Linked DNA regions of Homo sapiens. The protein of the gene in region 3 purifies or fractionates together with the protein of the main gene of each other region. This does not show direct contact. Each region holds a gene or a part of one and is shown on either strand. Other genes may lie near its edges.

Region 1 (7,474 bases), on a different chromosome or scaffold from region 3:
GGAAAAGGAGAGAGGCTCCTGTCTTGTACTAAACATGTCCAAATACCAAATACATTGATACATAAACTTACTATGAGACTTATCAGGTGATACAATGTTCAAGGAGATGAGTACTTCCTTTCCTAGGGTTGAGTGTGTATTTTCAAAAGATTGGATGTAGCTTTACAGTGACAAAAGGGAAGCGTCTCTCTAAAGGTGTCTTGGACTAGAGATGGTGGCATGTTCTAGGATTGTGGTAACTGGTATAGAAAGAAAAATGATCAGCTGGAGAAAGATTAGAAAGGCAGAATATACAGGATTGGATTTGGTAACTGGCTGGACATGGGGTGTGGGAGGAAAAGGGAAGTCAAAGAACATTCTCAAATTTCTTGACCAGACAATTGAGGGAATAATGGTACTAACTTACTATTTCCCATCTGTTGGAAATTCTGGTGGAAATGTCCTAAAAATATTACAGTTTCTCTTCAGTTATGCATATGAAATAAACAGTGCAAAAAATATTTTAGATTTGATTTTAGCATATGATTTTTATCTCCTGGGCTATTTTCCACCTATTTTACGTAAAATAGTATTAAAATGAGTCTGCACCAACAGGAGAGAAAGGAAGTTTAGTTAGCACAGAACTGTGCTTCGTGCATGGAGAAGGCCAGCTTGAAACTAAAATTTGCCATTCAAAGAAATCCACAGGTGAAAAAGTCAAGAATTGACACTATCCCCAAAACACACAAGTGTCTCAAAATGTTTTCCTTGGGCTTACTACTGAGCCCAAGGAAACTAAGCACAGAAATAGCTCTTCCATAAAAACATGACAGGCTTTTAAAAAAGTGAACGAGAAAAAAATCCACAGAAAAAGAGTGCTACTCTTTGAAACACAACATCCAGAACAAAAGACAGTACCTTCAAAACCCACTCAGTCATTGAGAAATATTAACTGTCCTAAAATTCCGTAAAGAGATTAGTGTTGGCTGGGCGCGGTGGCTCACGCCTGTAATCCCAGCACTTTGGGAGGCCAAGGCCGGCGGATCACGAGGTAAGGAGATCGAGACCATCCTGGCTAACACGGTGAAACCCGTCTCTACTAAAAATACAAAAAACTAGCCAGGTGTGGTGGCGGGTGCCTGTGGTCCCAGCTACTTGGGAGGCTGAGGCAGGAGGATGGCCTGAACCCGGGATGCGGAGCTTGCAGTGAGCCGAGATCTCGCCACTGCACTCCAGCCTGGGCTACAGAGCCAGATTCCTTCTCAAAAAAAAAAAAAGAGATTAGCGTTGCCCGAAAATTAGGTTCTTTTTAAACACTTTCATTTTGTCTTTATAAAGCTACATCCAATCCTGTGAAAATGCACAGGTTGCTCTAAGAAAAGAAGTACTCATCTCCTTAAACACTATTACCTGATAAATGTTATATTAAGTTTACATATCAATGCATTTACAATGTATATATTCATGCATTTATATGGGAGGTAACAAATTAGAAGATACACCTTTCTATATTTGCAAAAATGTAAAATGTCACTTGTATTCTCTCAAGGCAGTTTTATTTAAAAAAAAATTTCCTCACATTGAATAGATTATAAAATAAAAATCAGATGCCCCATACTACGGTACCTAGCAACCCCCTTCACCCAACTCCCATGGGCTTCTCCCACACACTATTTCATCAGTCATCTAGGGAGTCTGTAAGGAATGGGTTATCCTTTCCCTTGCAAAACAGATAAAACTTGTGCACTTAATACGCTCAAAGAATGTGTTCAGTTAATTATAAAAAAATGAAAACTATTTGTTTTCATCATTTATTCCTTCAGTCTATATGGTAAAAGAATCCAATTCTCATTAAAAGTTACCATATCAACTCTAAGGAACTTGGTGAATCCATCCGATCACTATCACAGAGGAACTATCCCTTAATTACATGTACAGAGGGTCACCAAATTCCGCTTACAAAAGCTTTCCAACCATTCTATCATACCGGAGGAAAAAGTAATGTTTCTCCTATAGCTATACAAATAAATGTCGTTAGTTTTTCTATAGTTTTCCTGGGCTTTCCTGTTGACAGGCAATATTTCAAAAGAATATAAGATCTGTGATTTATCTTCCACGCCTTAGTTACGGAAAATGATGCTAATACGATAATTGGCTTAAGGTTACAACGCTGACGTTGGAATGTTTACTGCCAAACAAAAGGAGAAATTATACTTAATTTTAAAAAACATCTCAGGAAAGAACATACCCCTAAAAACGTAAATTAAAACTGGTAACATAATTAGACGGTCTCTTAGATAATAGTAATTCAGGTTTCCCCTCCATCGACAGTAACTACCAAGTTTTCCCATGAAATGGAGGTTAGGGACCAGCCTTAGAATACTGAGAAAGATAAGAGACTCCCCTAGAATCGAAAGAGGGAAGAGAAACCAGAGAACAGAAACATGGTGAGGAAAGAGAAAAAACAGCTCTAACGTGCCAAGGGGTCTATTAACAAGAAAAAGGCATTATTGAACCGATTTACCCAGGAGTAACCCGAGCCCAAACCCCCGCCGACCACGGGGCGAACTCCGAAGTCTACTGAAGAAAGCTCCAGAGCCCAGTGACAATGAGAACCGCTCTTCTCTAGGAGTGGGGGCTCTAAGAGGAGACCATGCCTTCCCTGAATCGCCTTCCAGTTTGCTCGTCAGGAGCAAGACCCACCTGGAGACCGCCATGGCCGGGCGCCGGCGGTTCGGAGCTCCCCGCGACCTACGCGCCGCGCAGCTGAGGCGCTAGTTTCCAGAGAGCTGAGCGGCGCAGGCCCAGGCCGCGGAGCACAGGGGAGCGGCCGGTGCGGCGTGGGGCGTTCCAGCGCAGGCCCTCGGGCATCTGCCCTGCCGCCTACCCGAGCTCGTCCCCGCGGCGGCCGGTAAGCAGGGGTCCAAGACGGTAGCGGAGGCGGCAGTCCTCCGACCCGCACGACTTCAAACCGGGTACCCTCAGCTCCGCTCTTTGCTGACGCGGGCGTCGGCACGCACAACTGAGCGTCAGCGCGCCGGAAGTGACGTAAGCTCACCGACAGGAGCTTAGCTCGGCGCGAGCGCCTTTGGTTTGGCGGCACGCGCCTAAATAAAAGCGCTTTGTGCTGATGTGGAGAGGGTGTCTAGTCTTAAAACTAGGGAAGGAGGTGAAGTAAGGGTCCCCTTATTTGACAGAGAAGGAAAAAGGCGATTTAGTCCAAGTCCTGGAACTTCGAAAGCTTGGTTTCTAATTCCACACTACCCAGATTCTGCTTCCCACCGTACTGCATCTAGGAAGCAAGATCAGAAGGACCTTAACATGCTCTTGTCCAGGTGGTGAAGCCAGTGGGAGGAGTGAAAGCAAAAAGTCGCTATGACACTGAAGAAATGGCTCAGATGTTTGTCATTATTTGCCAGAAGTTCTGCCTAGGTATTGGAGAGAAGGTCTTCTGACCAACGATTTTGCCAAGTTTGATTTCTCAATTGTTTATGTTGTTTGTACCATCATTTTCTCAGCCAGCCAGATTTGAAAACTACCATTTTTAAATTTTTGTTCCTTTGGGGGACTTATCTGGCTTTTCAATATTTTTAAGTTCATTAGGCTTTTAAACACTTCTGCCAGGCCCTTATCATCTTACACTTGATTTTTTTTTTTTGACCGAGTTTCGCTCTGTCGCCCAGGCTGGAGTGCAGTGGCGCGATCTCGGCTCACTGCCAACCTGCGCTTACCGGGTTCAAGCGATTCTAAATGTGCCTCAACCTCCCGAGTAGCTGGGAGGCACACGAGCCCCACGCCGGGCCAATTTTTTGTATTTTTTAGTAGAGACGGGGTTTCGCCATGTAGGCCAGGCTTGTCTCCTGCTCCTGGCCTCAAGTGATCTGCCCGCCTCGGCCTCCCAAAGTGCTGGGATTACAGGTGTGAGCCACTGCGCCCGGCCCTTAAACTTGATTTTTATGCTAGTAGTCAAAATAATATTTCTCCAATTTTCAGTTCAGCCCATTTTATAGGCCAACAGATTAATCTTCAAAAAACCTCACTGCTTTTTATCATGTCGCTCCTATGCTTATAAAGCATGTCCATTGGCTTCTCATTACCTGAAGAGGCTATGTCTCAATCCTTGAGTCTGTTTTTCATCTGTAAAATGAGGCTAATGAGAAGTACTGCAGAAGATTGTGGGAATAAAATGAGGTCATGAATCTAGAAGAGCTTACAAGAACTTTGTAAACCATAAAGTAGTATATATGTATGTAAAGAGAAAGAAACTAACAAGTACCTGCTGTGTGCTGGGCACATGACATGCATTATCCATATAATTTGTAGGGAAGCCTTGAAAAGTTAGTTTTAATCTTCGTAGACAAGGAAACTAAGCTCAGAAAGGTTAAGTAATTTGCCTCAAGATTCAAGCTAGTAATAATATTTATTGTCCAGTCATTCAACAAATGTTTGTCACCTCTCTGTATCAGAAACTCTGCTTGGCGGTGTTCATGCTATTAAAATCTAATCAAGTTGATGTTCAAGATATCTTTACATTTTCACTTTAGTCACCTACTTGCCTCATCAGTTTATCTCCCACCATTCAATAACAAGCAGATACTTTTTACTGATCGTGTACAGCAATCATTTAGCCAAAATTAAGCACCTACCATATGAGAGACTGGAACTTCTGAAGAAACCAGAACAGACAAGGTGCCTACTCTGGTTGAATTTACATTAAAAGGAAAGGAAAAAGAAAATAGATAAACATTGAAAATATATTTATGTGCTATGTAAAGAGAATGATGGAATTAATGGTATGATTAAAGACCTACTCTTACTGGGTAAATCAGGGAAAAACAGGATTAGCTTAAGCTGAGCCCTAAATGACAAGAGGTAGCTAAATGTGTGACAATCTGGGAGCCTTCCAGGAAGAGGGTATACGTAGTGCAAAGGCGTAAGAGAAGTCTGCTCTGTTGGGAAATGAGATGGGAGAAGTAGAAAGGGATCATCGTAAGGAATTTGGACTTTGCTCCATATGAAGTAGAAAGTCATAGAGTTTTAAGCAAGTGAGTAAAATGATCTTAGTTATATTTTTTAAATCTTTTTATTATCAGATAATTGGGTATATAGTCTAAATGGCATTAGAAGAGAGGAAAGGACTGGTGGTGTAGATTTGTAAAGGATAGTGTAATAATCAAATATATTGATATTGGACCGGCTTGTTTTTAAATCCTTTCTCACCACACTGAATCGCAGTGTCTCCAGGGGGAATTTTAGAACCTCTCTAAGCTTCATCTGGGAAATGAGGATAATAATAGTACTCATAGGGTTGCGGTGATGATTAAATTAATGCACATAAAACATTTAACCAAGTGACTGCCACGAGAAGCCCTCAAAAATATTATTAACTACATTGCTTACTGTTTTTGTTAACAATGGAAACTTGAGTAAGTGGCAATTTCTAGTCTCAATTTATTCAGCTGTGAAACGGGGATAATAATAGTACCAGTTCACCACCGTTATCTATACCAGTTCATCACCCCTGCCAGATGGTTTTCTGAGTTAAGAATTATTTAGGTTTTGAAAAGAAATCCAATGAATATACCTTGTATTATGCAGCATCCCAACAGCTTGTAGGGCAGTACTCTATAATCAAATATATTTATAGAGCTGCAGCAAAATGTATGACTAACCATACTAAGAGGAATAAGTAAAAGACTATAGATAGGCATATGCCAGTTCAGGCCAGGATTTGCTGCCAAATATATATATTTTGAGATGGCATTTTGCTGTTTCCAAGGCTGGTCTTGAACTCCTGGGCTCAAGCAGTCCTCCCATCTCAGCCTCATGAGTAGCTGGGACTATAGGTGAGTTTTTAAAAGTGTGGTTTTCAGACCATTTTCAATTTCAGAATTGTAAATAATAGATCATGAACCTGTACTTATAGAATTGTCATAAGGAAGAAATGAGTTCATACATGACACACTTAGAAAATACTAAGTATTAGCCAGGTGTGATAGTTCATGCCTGTCATCCCAGCACGTTGAGAGGCTGATGTGGGAGGATCGCTTGAGCCCAGGAATTCGAGACCAACCTGGGCAACATAGGGAGACCTCATGTCTACAAAAAAAATTTTTTTTAATTAGGCTGGGTGCGGTGGCTCATGCCTGTAATCCCAGCACTTTGGGAGGCCAAGGCAGGCAGATCATGAGGTCAGGAGATGGAGACCATCCTGGCTAACACAGTGAAACCCAGTCTCTATGAAAAATACAAAAAATTAACCGGGCATGGTGGCGGGCACCTGTAGTCCCAGCTACGCGGGAGGCTGAGGCAGGAGAATGGCATGAACCTGGGAGGCAGAGCTTGCAGTGAGCCAAGATCACGCCACTGCACTCCAGCCTGGGTGATGGAGCAAGATTCCGTCTCAAAAAAAAAAAAAAAAAAAAAGCCAGCTGTTGGTGGCATGTGCCTATAATCTTGGCTACTCAGGAGGCTAAGGTGGGAGGATCCCTTGAGCCCAGGAACTTGAGGCAACAGTAAGCCATGATCATGCTACTCTACTCTAGCCTGGGTGACAGAAGGAGACCCTGTTTCAATGAAAAGAAAAGACTAAGTATTAAATAAATATTAACTATTATGATTAACTATTTTAGTTATTATTATTTATAATAACTAAATGTACACCATTAAGTGAACAAATATTCACATTATAGGAGTTAAGGAAGGAGAAGTGATAACGAAAAAGCTTATTTAGTGAAATTATTGCTAAAAAAACCTTTCAAGTCTTGGGACAGATATAGAGGGGCAGATTCATAAAACTGAAAGATCCCCCAATAAATACAGCCCAAAGACATCCTCACCAAGGCACATAATAATCAAACTGTCAAAATTTAAAGAAAAATAAAGAATTTTAAAAGCAGCAAGAGAAAAGTGTCAAGTCACATATACGGGAATCTCCATTAGACTACCAATAGATTTCTCAGGAGAAACCTTATAGGCCAGGAAAGAATAAGATTATATATTCAAAGTGCTGAAAGGAATGAAGAAATGAAGAAGAAATAAAGTTTTTCCCAAACAAGCAAAAGCTGAAGAAACTCATCACTACTAGGTCTGCCCTACAAGAAATGCCTAATGGAAGTTTCTTTCTTTCCTTTTTTTTTTCCTTCGAAGTCTTGCTCTTGTCCCCCAGGCTGGAGTGCAATGGCACAATCTTGGCTCACTGCAACCTCCGCCTCCTGGGTTCAAGCAATTCTCCTGCCTCAGCCTCCCGAGTAGCTGGGATTACAGGCAACTGCCACCACACCTGGCTAATTTTTGCATTTTTAGTAGAGACGGGGTTTCACCATGTTGCCCAGGCTGGTCTCAAACTCCTGACTCCAGGTGATCCACCTGCCTCGGCCTCCCAAAGTGCTAGGCTTTCTTGCTTTCTTCCTTTCTTCCTTCCCTTCCTTCCTTCCTTCCTTCCTTCCATCCTTCCTTCCTTCTTTTCTTTCTTTCTTTTTTTGACAGGGTCTTG
Region 2 (7,025 bases), on a different chromosome or scaffold from region 3:
TAGGAAGTTCTGGTATCAGGAATTCACATGGGCCTGCCCAAAGCAACTTTGCACCACACGACTTTGACCTGGTAAGAGCCCTCCCATGAATCTAACTTAAGGCAATAACCTAACAGAAAGAAAAAGACATATACATTCAGGCCAGGTGCGGTGGCTGATGCCTGTAATCCCATAACTTTGGGAGGCCAAGGTGGGTGGATCACTTAAGGTCAGGAGTTTGAGACTAGCCTGGCCAACATGGCAAAACCCCATCTCTACTTTTTTTTTTTTTTTTTGAGACGAAGTCTCATTCTGTCGCCTGGGCTGGAGTGCAGTGGCATCATCTTGGCTCACTGCAAACTCTGCTTCCCGGGTTTATGCCATTCTCCTGCCTCAGCCTCCCGATTAGCTGGAACTACAGGTGCCCACCACCACGCCCGGCTAATTTTTTTTGTATTTTTAGTAGAGACAGGGTTTCACTGTGTTAGCCAGGATGGTCGCGATCTCCTAACCTCGTGATCTGCCTGTCTTGGCCTCCCAAAGTGCTGGGATTACAGGCCTGAGCCACCGCACCTGGCCTTTTTTTTTTAATTGAGATGGAGTCTCACTCTGTCACCTAGGCTGGTGTGCAGTGGCACGATCTCAGCTCACTGCAACCTCGGCCTCCTGGGTTCAAGCAATTCTCCTGTCTCAGCCTCTTGAGTAGCTGGGATTACAGGCGCGTGCCACCATGCCTGGCTAATTTTTGTATTTTTAGTAGAGATGGGGTTTTGCCACGTTGGCCAGGCTGCTCTTGAACTCCTGACCTCAGATGATCCACCCACCTCGGCCTCCCATAGTGCTGGGATTATAGGTGTGGGCCACCACACCTGGCCCTTTAAACTGTATATTCTGCATATATGAATACACTGTAGGGTAAACGCCAAGAATGGAATTTTTGGGTAAAGGGCATGTGTCTTTTAAAATAACGTTAGTTTTATTATAAAAAACAACTCAAAATATCCAATTGTTTCCAGCATCTCTTCTGGCAAACAGAACCGTCTATCTGCGTACGCCTTCCAAGGCACTTGGGTAGGAATGGAAGCCCCGCACTAGGCTTCAGCAGCCTCCAGTGCCCACCCAGGGTAAGAAGGGGTTTTCCTGGGTCACGAGTTCCTCTGCCCCTTTCAACTCCAAGAGAAGGAGCGCTGACACTTCAGTCTCCACCTTTGTAAAATGGGGACGCACCCTACATCGTGAAGATGAAATAGGATAATACACGAGAACACTGCTGGCCAGGGAAGGGTGAGAACAGAGAGTGGCGGGTAAACCTTACGTGTATCTTGCCCTTGACGAAGGTGGTGATATCTTCCTCACTGTCGAAGATGGACAGTGTCTGGAGCAAGTTATTTTCCAGCCATTCCCAGTGTTTTGTGATCTCTTTGCGGGAAGAACCTAGAAGAGGTTTGGTAAAGTAAAAGAAAAATCATGAATTCCCCAGGCCTTAAACGCACATTCAAAGAAGCGAGATGAAAGTGGGTGACCTCATTTGCTAAATCTAAGTGACCAGAATCTTCAAGCTGCTTTTCCCTCTTAAGCTGATGGATATGTGCATAACAAAGTAATAAATGGTCCTGGTAAAAAAACAAAAAATTAAACGTCCAGGCTGAATCACAGTCGTGTGGGAGAGAATGTTTCCACCTGTCCCTGAAGCCAACAGGGAGAGTCACTAAGTCTCCTATGTGTCCTAGAAATAGTCTGTGTGCCTGCAAGCTTGCTAACTTACACTTTTCCTCAAGTTGAAAGAACTTAATGTGGCTTTTGCTATGTAGGTGATTAATCAGACACAGTCATACTTTGTATAAATGAGTCCAGCTCTTTCCTGAGCATCTAGGTATCCACAGATAAGCAGCCGGAGCTTCCTACAAGACTCCAGGCCCCTGGCCAGCGAGGCTCCTGCTGGGCAGGCGAGTAGCTACTGTCCCTCTCTTCAGTTTCTCCTGGCCACCTTCTTACCTTGTGTCTGCCCCACCTAGGAGGGAGGGGGTCCCTGTCCTCCATAGGCCCAACGGAAATTAAAAAAAATGTAGAGAAAATCTGGGCGCCGTGTCTCATGCCTGTAATCCCAGCACTTTGGGAGGCTGAGGCAGGAGGGTCATTTGAGCCCAGGAGTTCGAGATCAGCCCGGGCAGCATGGCGAAACCAAAAATACAAAAAATTAGCTGGGCGTGGTGGCATGCACCTGTGGTCCCAGCCACTCAGGATGCTGAGGTGGGAGGATTGCTTGAGCCTGGGAGGCGGAGGCTACAGTGCAGCCTGAGTGACAAAGTGAGACCTCGTCTCAAAAAACAAAACAACACACAAAACAAAAACGTAGAGAAGGCAGCACGATGCCACTTTCAAAGGCTGGAAGAATTGTTTGCTCCCATTAAGGAATCGGGGAAGAAGCCCCGGGGGAAGAGCAAAGGGATGAGGGGAGATCTCTGCCTGGCCTGGCTCCCCTACCCCCAGCACCTGTTTCTGGGGTTTTGCCTGTACTGAATGAACACAAGGATGAGGAGTGAATGACACCCTGAATCATTCTCAGCTGTCCGGGGGTGGGACAGGAGGCCCACCCACCAGGCATGAAGACAGCCTCAGCCAAGACATGGCAGATTCTCGTTATTCAGGTGGTCAGATTCTGTAAGGTGGCCGCGAACACTGAGTTAGCGAATCCTGAACCAGTACCCTGGGGGAACACAGGGTTAGGTTCCTGGAGCCTCTAATCACACTCTTGTCGACTGACCGATACATAACTGTTTTACATGTTTCTGTTTAAAGATGCCTTATTTAATACGTATCCCTGATCGATTGGCATTGAGCTCACGGCCAGCAGCACTATCACTCACGCCTGAAAGAAGCTGCTCGCATGCACGGATCTCCTTCACAAGGCACAACTCAGCCTTCTTGCTCTTAGGAACAAGAGCACTACGGCACTATGCTCGGGAGGCCAGTGTGACTGTGAACCAGACGTCTCTGCTGGCACGCCTGCCCCGACCACCTTCCTTCCCTCCCTGACCAGGCTCTTCTGCCAGCTGGAGACAGCTCTGACCCTCCCTCCAGGCCAGGCTGGGCCTGTCACCTGCTCCAGCCCGTGGCACCCGCTCAAGGCTGTGTCACAGCCCGGCTGTTCTGCTTGGGACTGATTTGTTTGCTTTGTCAAATCTCCTCAAGCAGACCCTGACCTAAGAAGCAAGGCCACAGGATAGATCCTCCCGATTGGCCTGGGGGAGGATGCCCACGGGAAAACGATTCCACCCAGAATCACACAGCTTGCAGTGAGTCACAAAAGGCCCCCAGAATTACTCCTGGAAGCCCCTTAAGTCATCCATAATTCACTTTAAACTTTTTTTTTCATTTTTCTTTGCATTTCTATTACAGCCTCCTTTCCCTGATGCACAGAGGCCAAGGCCTAGTTGGTAGGTAGAGATTTCTTTTTCGGTTTCTTTGCCAGGAACCCACAGTTGAATTTGGAAGTCAAATTTACATGTGGTGCAACTCTACTGTATTATTTTCTGTTACACATAACATTCCTAGAAAACTAAAACAGAAGAAATCTCCTCCTCGCTGCCTGTGTGGATGTGTCAGCACTTTAATTAAAAATATTTATAGGCCGGGCACAGTGGCTCAGTCCTATAATCCCAGCACTCTGGGAGGCTGAGGCAGGGGAATCGCTTGAGCCCAGGAGTTTGAGATCAGTCTGGGCAACATGGCTGTCTCTACAAAAAATAGAAAAAATGAGGCATGGTTGCGTGGGCCTGCAGTCCCAGCTAGTCAGGAGGCTGAGGTGGGAGGATCGCTTTAGCCAGAGAGCTGCAGTGAGCTGTGATTGCACCACGGCACTCCAGCCTGGGCAACAGAAAGAGAACGCCTCAAAAAAACATTTCTTTTTTTACATATGTGCATTAAAAATATTAGTTAAAAGTAACTCAATCTTCATTTCATACTAAGAAACTATTCCATCTCTATGCTAGGTGCTGGGAATAAAAATAATATAATAGCTAATTAGAGTATTAAATGCTGTTTCTGTTTTCAGAGTTTTCCATGGATTATCTTATTTCATTCTCAGAACACAGTGGAGACAGGTACCATTATTTTCATTTTACCAGATGAAGCTGAGGCACAGAGAGGTGAAATAAGTTACCCAAGGTCACACAGCTGGGAAGTGATCAAATCAGAATCCTAACCCTGGGTGCCTGGCTGCAGAGCCTGCCCTCACCCTCGGAAGCTCCCGGCCTCATGGGCTTCCACGTAAAAGCGTGTGCAGACACGTCATGTCCAGAGGAGTAAGGAGGAAGGATGGGTCTGTGGAGTCTGGGCAGTTCTCAGAGGAGCGGGAGGGAAGGTTAGCTGGCATGGCGGACACTAGGCACAGCAGCCAGGAGGGGTGTGGCTCCTCCAGGCCCTGCAGCTGTGTGGTCCGGCTGAAGGCCAGGCTGTGAGCTGGGGAGACAAGGCCAGAAATGGAGGCAGGCAGACCCCCAGGTGTCCTCGAACACCAGGCTCAAGGGTCAGGACTCACTAAGCAGGTGCTGGCAGGGCCATGTCTGGTCTTGGTGAGTTGCTTCTGGGGCCTAGCCTGGCTGGCAGGAAAGGGAGGCACAGCCAGGGCCAGTGCAGGGCTTTGGGCCTGGCAGGAGGGGAGAGGTCAAGTGTGTGGCACGGGGCTACGTACATGGGCTCCGCTGCGTGGCTGTGGCTGGGCCCCTCCCCAGCACCAGGCCTGCTGTGACTAAAGGGATTCCCACTCTGCCCCTCGTACTTTTCTCTCCCCAGGGACGGGCAGCTCTTGCTGCCAGAGATGGAAATCTCAAGGGCCCATGTTAAAGCAGCTCCTCTCCTCATTAGCACACACCAACCTCCTGGCCCACTCAGAAATGGTCCCCTCCCCACAGGAAGCCCCTCCTCTGGCAAACTCTTGCTGCCCCCAGGGTCCACTCAGGCTCTGAAGCCAGAGATCGGGGGTCTAACTGGGCTTCCCTGCTTGGCCTTGGACAAACTCCCCTTCCTAACTCTTACTGAGTTATTCAGTCCTGCAAAGGAGAAGGGCACTGCTGGTCAGGATGCCCGTGCAGAGCGCCCACCTGGGAGTGGGGCTATTCCCGGGGTGCCGCCCGCCCTGTGCTTTTACTTCCTTGACCCTTCCCCTCCTGAAGCTGGGTTCCAGCCGTGAGGTTGACAAACTTTTGAGTCTCATCATCTTCTCCCAGGCCTTCAAGGGAAACCACTACCCTGGAGAACAAGGGCACTGTGGCTTCTGCTTCAGAGAGGTACTGAGAGGGTCCAAACTGCAGCTGTGTGACTCTGAGCAGGTTACTCAACCCCTCTGGGCCAGAGTTTCTTCACCTTCAACATAGAGAAGACCAAAGTACTTATGCCTTCTGGAGGTACCGGGTGGTTCAGGCAAGTGCCTGGCACACAGGAAGCACTGTCTGAGCGTCAGCTAGGACTGTCATTTTCTCAGAGCAAACTCAACCCAGCAGGTACCCGCTGAAAGGGGACTTCCCTCCGCACTCTTGGACGGGTGAGTGCGCTTCCACCTAGGAGGACAACTACAGCGGATTCTCGTTATTCAGGTGGTCAGATTCTGTAAGGTGGCCGCGAACACTGAGTTAGCGAATCCTGAACCAGTACCCCGGGGGAACACAGGGTTAGGTTCCTGGAGCCTCTAATCACACTTCTGTCGACTGACCGATACATAACTGTTTTACATGTGTTTCTGTTTAAAGATGCCTTATTTAATACGTATTCCTGATCGATTGGCATTGAGCTCACGGCCAGCAGCACTATCACTCACGCCTGAATGAAGCTGCTCTCATGCACAGATCTCCTTCACAAGGCACAACTCAGCCTTCTTGCTCTTAGGAACAAGAGCGCTATGCTTGGGAGCCATTTTAAACAGCCAAGTCATCAGCAACGAGCACAAACATGGGAAAAACATGGCACTGCAGAGACTGTGAACAGGACACGTGAGTGCAGTATGAGAGCTGAATCAAGAAGGCAGAGCGTCGTCCTGTTCTGCCTCAGCTGGGGACATGGGCATCAGGCGAGTCAAATTTTTCACTGCTTTGAACGTGCATGTGTCCATGAGTGTCTCCAAATGACCACAAAATCGCTGGAAGTATTGATTTGGGGATTGCAAATACATTTTATTGAGTAGGCCAATTTGCAAATATGGAATCTTTGAATGAGGCCGACTACGTCTACCTTGAGAAAAGGTGGCATGAGAATGTGGACATTGGCTAGCCCCACACCTGCGTCCCTAGAGGTACATGGGGATCCATGGGGCTGTCCTCTCCTGCCCTGTCCCCATGACCAGTGGAGCTGCCTTTTTTTTTTTTTTTTTTTTTTGAGACGGAATCTCGCTGTGTCGCCCAGGCTGGAGTGCAGTGGCGCGATCTCGGCTCACTGCAAGCTCCGCCTCCCGGGTTCACGCCATTCTCCTGCCTCAGCCTCCCGAGTAGCTGGGACTACAGGCCTCCGCCACCACCCCCAGCTAATTTTTTGTGTTTTTTAGTAGAGACGTGGTTTCACCGTGTTAGCCAGGATGGTCTCGATCTCCTGACCTCGTGATCAGCCCGCCTCGGCCTCCCAAAGTGCTGGGATTACAGACGTGAGCCACCGCACCGGGCCACGGAGCTGCCTTTCTAAGATGGAAGCGAAGGCTCCTCCACTTCCCTCTTGCAGCCTTGGGCTATGCTGTCAGCAGGGAATACCACCCAGACACGTGGGCTACACACCCCTTCCTCTCGGCAACGGCCCTTCCAGGGCAGGCCCTGCCCAGCACCCCTCACCACTCAGGGCACCTACCACACGCCACTGTCCAGTAGACCTGGGAGTCCTGGGTCTGGTGCAGGATGCGGTAAGGGGCCACGCGGGCACTGGAGTCCAGCACCACGTCCAGGGTGCCCACGAGAAGACCTGGGAACAGGGCAGAGAGACATAGAGGGTGAGGGGAGGGCCGGACTGAGGCCCCTGAAGGCTGAGTCTGGCCGGAGGCAGACAGGATGGTGACGCTACCCAAAGGG
Region 3 (7,025 bases):
TACGCCTGTAATCCCAGCACTTTGGGAGGCTGACGCGGGCGGATCACGAGGTCAAGAGATCGAGACCATCTGGCCAACATTGTGAAACCCCGTCTACTAAAAAACAAACAAAAAAACCCCACAAAAATTAGCCTGGCGTGGTGGCACGCGCCTGTAGTCCTATAGCTACTCGGGGAGCTGAGGCAGGAGAATCGCTTGAACCCAGGAGGCGGAGGTTGCAGTGAGCCGAGATGGTGCCACTGCACTCCAGCCTGGCGACAGAGCGAGACTCCGTCTCAAAAAAAGTACCTACTTTGAAATCCGTTTTGTTGGAGGAAGAGGAAGGAAGAGAAATGTGGAGAACTGAAGCATTGCTCAGGGAAGACAGACCTGTATCAGGTGCCTTTCTTGCAGCGTCTAGGGGAAGAGGAGTGGAGGGGCAAAGGGAAAAAAACCAGGCAGGAAGGTCAAAGACCAAGGCTTTAGAGGTTACATGATAACTACCTCCACTTAAGGTGAAATCTAGGTTTCAATAGTCTTTATAATTTAGGCAGAAAACAAAACAAAATCTGAAATATGTAAGATAGAAAATACACCTTAAAATGACTACCCTGAGTTTCTGGCTATTGCAAACTCTTCCCCAGCCTACTTGGATTTTCTGCTGCATAGACATAACCTTAATCTATGACTGTGTCTCTAGAGTGGAAGAGTAAAGTTGACAGGTGAGAATTACTTAGGAAGTTTAATTAATGAATATAACTGAAGTAGGTTTTTGGGGTTTTATCCATGTTTTTTAGCACCATATTTTAAAATAAATATTGTTCCAACACACTACTTTGTTTTCCCTGAGTGGAGATAGCTTGGCAGCTATCTTAAATTCAATCAGGCTTTGGAAATTTTTGTTTGTAAATTGAATGACTAAGTACTAACTTCATTACCAGTGCTTATTTGCACTTTTGACACACGGGCTCAGCCTCTTCTAGAGCATTTAGTTGGCGAATCAACATCTGATCTCTGCAAACTAACAAATCATCAGCTGTATACAGAGGCATGTTCATCTGTGGTATCGTTAGCCCCGGGAATAGTAGTAAACTAGCTAGTTAATGCTCTATGGCTGTCCTCTTATATAAACCTTATGGTAAGATCACTTTATAAAATATAGCTGTACAGGGAACAACCTACCCAAACCTCTGATCCTAAATTAGAGAGGAGTTTCTGACATGTTGGAGGGAGGGCTCTGGTGCCAGACTGTCTGCGTTCAAATTCAGACTCTGTCTGTAACCAACCACATAACCTTGGATATGACAGTAAGCTCTTGATGACTCAGTTTTCTCATCTGTAAAATGGTAATAGTAGTAGTAGCTTTTCTCATAGCATTGATTAAATGAGATAACACGTGACATGCTTAGAACAGAGTTTGTCAAGGTGAAAATTCAATAAAACTTGGCCATCATTAGCTGTGACTTTTATCAGAAAGTTTCAGGCTTCAGTGGTCTAAGTCAAACTGGCAGTTTTAATACGATTAACCGAGGAATTGCCCATTTTGGTGACCTTGAAGTGCTTAAGAGCATGGAAACGAGTTATTTCAGAGTCAATCTTAAATTGATGTTCCTTAGGCAAGTTATTTAACGTCTTTGAGCTTCAATTTTCTTATCTACTATAAAATAGTATAATATGATATCCCAAATTTAAACTGTAACAGTACCCATTCTAAAGTGTCATTGTCAGAATTAAATAAGTTAACATATATAATATATATAAAGTCATTAGCATATGCTTGGTAGATAATTAGCCTCCATTCTTACCATGACATGGCCCAAATTAACAATTAGAATTAGATCGTTCTGGCTGATGGAGCAGGGATTTTTTGTTTGTCTCCTCTCCTGTCGGTTCTGAAATTTGTGTCTGTTAATTTACATGAAAATACCACTTTGTGATGGGAATTATTTGACTGGACAAAATCAGTTAATTGTCAGATCTATAGTTTGTGCTGTCTTGGAACATTGTCTAAATGAGTTCTTGATTTTAATACCTGACTTCTCGAACATTCCATTTAAATGAAAACATTTCTTTTATAGTTAATATTGCCAGAAAGCAGCAATTTTTTTTTTTTACTTGACATATTTTCAAAATGAGTCATTCTGTACTGTGAAGTTGAGTGGGCCCTTGGGTGGTAAACTTTTCAAGAGAGTTTGTTTTACTAAATGGGGATCTGCAGGAAGTGGGCATCCATGTGATGAAGATACAAAGAGCTTGTTCTTGCTTAGGTAGAAAGAAGGGGGTGTGGTGTTGTACTGGGAACAATGCGAGGGAACCAGAGGCTCAGGCAGGGCCAAGGGGAAGGAAGAGTGAAGTTTATCTGACTAGAAATCAGCTGGGTCAAATGAAGATGGAAATTGCAAAAGGGTCCCGAGGAGTGGGGTATGAGTGGGGCTGTGTGGAATGATGAGCTTGCAGGGATGAGACCATATCTCTTTGGATGGGGATAAATTCCACTATTACTTAATGCTTGATAGTTTACTAAATAGTTACAGTATTACCTTATGTAATCCTCATGATAAACCATACAGAATTGGTACTGTCCTCACTCTTCAGGTGAAGATGGTGGAGAGATCTAGGCTAACGTGGCCAGTAGGAAGCAGGGCTTGGATTTGACACCAGTTGTCCAGACTTGGAATCCAGCATTCATTCCATTATGTAGTGGTTATTGAAAAGCTGTATGCAGGGAAGTCCTTCTCACCCAAAAGAGTAGCCAAAGGAAAAGATGGATGTGTGGCTGAGACAGGAGAAAGGGGAAAAGCAGGGGTACTGAAATACATGCTGTGTGGTAAAAGTGGGGATACTGGGAAGGCAGAAAATAAGGAAGACAGAGCTAGAGAGAGAGCATCCAGAAGGCAGGTTCCATGGCATTACAGGTGAAAGAAGGGTTAGGTGAGGGCATGGGCAGTTGGGAAGAGGGACCAGAATTTCAGTCTCAGATTCCCTACAGACTTGGGTCATAGCAGAGCAAATCTGCACTGTTATTCCTGGGTCTTATGGATGAATAGACTGTTTCATGGTATAGTCTAATGGCCAAAACCATGGGCTCTGACTTCTTGGTTGAGTGCCCATTCTGCCATAACTAGCAATGTGACTTTGGGCAAGTTAATCCTCTGTGCCTTAATTTCCTCATCTATAAAACGTGGATAACAGTAGTACCTACTTCATAAGGTTATTATGAAGATTAAAGGAGATAAGACCCATGAGACCCTCAGAACAATGTGTGACACACAGCAAGCACAGAATATCATTTTTATCCATCCAGCTTGTCCTAGCAGGTAAATACAGCCGGCTGGAGAATAGGTGGACCAGTACTAGAAAATGTTCTTGCTGCCCGGAGGCCATAGGTAACAGAAGGAGGTTGTTATGTAGTTACTTTGCTGAGCCAGTGGGGTCATGGTAATATCATGGGAGTTTGTAAGGTTCTCTTGAGTTTTGACTAAGCTTCCATGAGTGCTGGGTGAGGTAAGCCCCTTCGACAAACTGGGTGCTGGGTGATGTAAGCCCCTGTGACAAACAGATCTGCTTGTTCATTGAGGAGCTACAACCCTGCAGGGTCCTCTCAAGAAATAAGGGAACCGAATGTGGATAACATGTGGATTGTACTTTATTTCTGTTTTGGTTTTGACAGGAAACAGCAAGAGATTGACTCTAAAGATGCTATTATTTTGCATCAGTTTGCAAGACCTAACAATGGTGTTCCAAGTTTATCTCCTTTCTGTTTAAAGATGGAAACTTATTTAAGGATGGCTGACTTACCGTATCAGGTACTTGTGTGCAAATATGTTTTCTTTTTATGACATCAGTATCAGGGGATGAGTATTTAACTAAAGGGGGGAATATTTCGTCTCACACAGTGGATGCCAGAGGGGATGGGAGCTGAAACTAGCAGTGCCTAATCCTTAGTAAGAGGGAAATAAAATACTTGATTCCAGGGTCTGTTGATAATGATGGATCAAAAAGGTCTAAACTTTTGAGAGATTCAGCGCCATGATATTTTTCTTTAACAGAGTATTCTTTGGGCTGGGCACGGTGGTTCACGCCTTTAATCCCAGCACTTTGGGAGGCCAAGGCAGGCGGATCACTTGAGGTCAGGAGTCTGAGGCCAGCCTGGCCAACATGGTGAAACCCTGTCTCTACTAAAAATACACAAATTGGCTGGGCTAGTGGCAGACGCCTGTAATCCCAGCTACCTGGGAGGCTGAGGCAGGAGAATCACTTGAACCGGGGAAGCAGAGGTTACAGTGAGCCGAGATTGCACCACTGTACTCCAGTCTGGGTGACAGAGCAAGACTCCATCTCAAAAAAAAAAAAAAAAGTATGCTTTGGTTAATAGTTTGGACAGGCCTACTGAGCCTTGACAAAGATGGGTGTGCCACTGCCTGATGTGGTTTTTTACTTTAGGTTTTAGTTTATTGACAGCATCGTATTTTGTCCCTCATGAATCTTGGGGGCAGAAGGCCCAGTAGGCCACGAGGTAGATATTTGTGTATGTGGTGAGAGCTTTTCCACAGCACTCCATGTTCTGTTTGTGTGACTTTCAGGGAAACACTTGTTCATTTTAGCAGTAAATAAGGAAGAGGAGTGTACTTAAAGGTATATATTTCTCTCTGAGTAATGCTTGAGCTGTGTCTCACAAAGTCAACACGCTGTGTTTTCATAGTCATTCAATTCTATGTATTTTTTTTAAAAGTTCACTTATGTTTTTATTTTTAACCAAGTTCTAGCCATATGGAACTATTTTAAGCTTTGATTTTTGTTATCATTTTTAATTTGATGGTCAGAGAAGATAGTCTCTGTGATATTGATTCCTTGGAATTCACTGAAGCTTTAGCCTGGTTTGTAGTTACTTTTTTAAAATGTTGAAAATAATTACATATTCTCTGTTTGGATATAGAGAGCTCTCTATAGATCTACTTGCTTAAACACGTTTAGTGTATTATTTAGACCTTCTGTATTTCTGCTTATTTTTTTGTCTGAAAGGAGCATGTTAAAATATTCAAGTGTATCTGTTGATTTGTCTCTTTCCTGTCATTCTGTCTGTTCTTGCTTTATGTTAGAGTATTTATATATTTTAGGTTACATTGTTAGGTACATATAAAAGTTCACATCTTTTACTCTTGTTTATTTTTCTAGTATGTATCCTCCATTGATGTCTCTTCCTATTTTTTAAAAAACTTGAATTCTGTGTTATCAGATATTGAGATAGATTCTCCAGCCTTCTTTTGGTTCATATTTGCTTAGGATATCTTTCTTCATTCTCTCTCTCTTTTTCTCGCCCTCTCTCTTTTTGTATTTATTTCTCTCTTATATCTAATTGGAGAGTCTTTTAATTGGCAACTTTAATCCATTTATACTTATTGAAATGATTGTTTTATTAGAACTTATTTCTAATATCTTATTTAATATTTTTCTCCTTACTATACTTCATTTTAAATTTCTTCTCATTTCCTGCTTTCTAATAGATATTTTTTCTCATTTAAAACAAATTATATTTTTGTTGTTATTGTAGTTACTCTTAAGACCCAAATTTGTGTTTATGCTTATTAATTTGTTAAATGAATTAAAGTCTGTATTTATTCTGTTATAATACAAACACATTAGCAGTTTACGTGTACCTTGGGTCTCTTCCTTTCTTCCCAGCCCTGATCCCAATTGTGTTGCTGTTGTCTAAGATTTTAATTCTGGAATTTTTTGGCCGGGCACGGTGGCTCACGCTTGTAATCCTAGCACTTTGAGAGGCCGAGGAGGATGGATCCCTTGAGGCCAGGAGTTCAAGACCAGCCTGACCAACATGGCGAAACCCCATCTCTATTAAAAATACGAAAATTAGCCAGGTGTGGTGGTGTGTACCTGTAATCCCAGCTACTTGGGAGGCTGAGGCAGGAGAAGTACTTGGACCCGGGAGGCAGAGGTTGCAGTGAGCCAAGATTGTGCCATTGCACTCCAGCCTGGGTGACAGAACCAGACTCCATAAAAAAAAAAAAAAAAAAAAAAAGGAATTTTAGCAATTCTTATCCTTTCTTTTTTATCCTTTTTAGGCAACAAACTTTAGTATGTTATTTGACTAGCCTTATTTCCCATATATCTTATTATAAAGGATTTATCTTTTTATTTGAGAACTTCCCTGATGAATATCTTTAGAGTGAGTCTTTATGTGGCAAACCTTCAGTGGCTTTGCATGCCTGAGAATATAGTTATTATACTCTCACATTTGATAAATTTATGTTCAAAGTTCTTTTCCTTCTATATTTTAAAAATATTAGGCCAGGCTGGTGGCTCATGCCTGTAATCCCAGCACTTTGGGAGGCTGAGGCTGGTGGATCGTCTGAGGTCAGGAGTTCAAGACCAGCCTGGCCAACATGGTGAAACCCCATCTCTATTAAAAATACAAAAATTAGCTGGGCGGTAGTGGCGTGTGCCTGTAATCCCAGCTACTCGGGAGGCTGAGGCAGGAGAATCGCTTGAAGTGGGGAGGTGGAGGTTGTGGTGAGCCGAGATCACGCCACTGCACTCTAGTCTGGGAGACAGAGTGAGACCCTGTCTCAAAAAAAAAGAAAATTGATGTTAATCTCATTCTTCTTTCTCTTTCTCTCTAAATTATCTTAGAATTTGTATTTAATCTTAATATTCTCAAGTTTCAATATGGCATGTGTTGGTGTGGGTCTTTATATATCCTGTTTGGTCCTTTATAAACTCTTATTATCTGAGGTCTTTCATCTCTTTTGAATTCTGGAGAATTAATTATCAATTTTGTTAAAATATTTCCTTTTCTTTTATGTTTGTTTTTCTTTTCCCTCTTCTTCCTTGTTCCCTATTATCCAGATTTTGGAAACTCTGCTTCTATTTTCTATGTCTCTCTACTCTCTACTTGAATTCTTTTCTGCTTCTTTCTGGAAGCATTCCTCTCTCTGAGCTTCCTTTGCATTGCTCTATGTGTGTTTGTTGTTGTTGTTTGTTTGTTTTTGTATCCATTATGCTATTTACCCCATCTATTGTGTTCCTTA

Evidence for each region. Proteins that work in one complex are often made in the same cells at the same time.
Region 1: the proteins of FAXC (region 3) and BTAF1 purify together in Homo sapiens (co-immunoprecipitation; 2 studies listed by BioGRID and IntAct, with this or other methods). This does not show direct contact.
Region 2: the proteins of FAXC (region 3) and TBC1D9B purify together in Homo sapiens (co-immunoprecipitation; 2 studies listed by BioGRID and IntAct, with this or other methods). This does not show direct contact.

What each region holds. Positions count from the first base shown.
Region 1 is NC_000010.11:91,919,299-91,926,772, reverse strand, and holds the start of BTAF1 (TATA-binding protein-associated factor 172), read right to left. Parts: upstream 3,004-7,474; 5' UTR 2,697-3,003; coding exon 2,683-2,696; intron 1-2,682. UniProt on the Homo sapiens protein: Regulates transcription in association with TATA binding protein (TBP). Removes TBP from the TATA box in an ATP-dependent manner.
Region 2 is NC_000005.10:179,897,895-179,904,919, forward strand, and holds part of TBC1D9B (TBC1 domain family member 9B), read right to left. Parts: intron 6,919-7,025; coding exon 6,808-6,918; intron 1,414-6,807; coding exon 1,295-1,413; intron 1-1,294. UniProt on the Homo sapiens protein: May act as a GTPase-activating protein for Rab family protein(s).
Region 3 is NC_000006.12:99,339,658-99,346,682, reverse strand, and holds part of FAXC (failed axon connections homolog), read left to right. Parts: intron 1-3,649; coding exon 3,650-3,785; intron 3,786-7,025. UniProt on the Homo sapiens protein: May play a role in axonal development.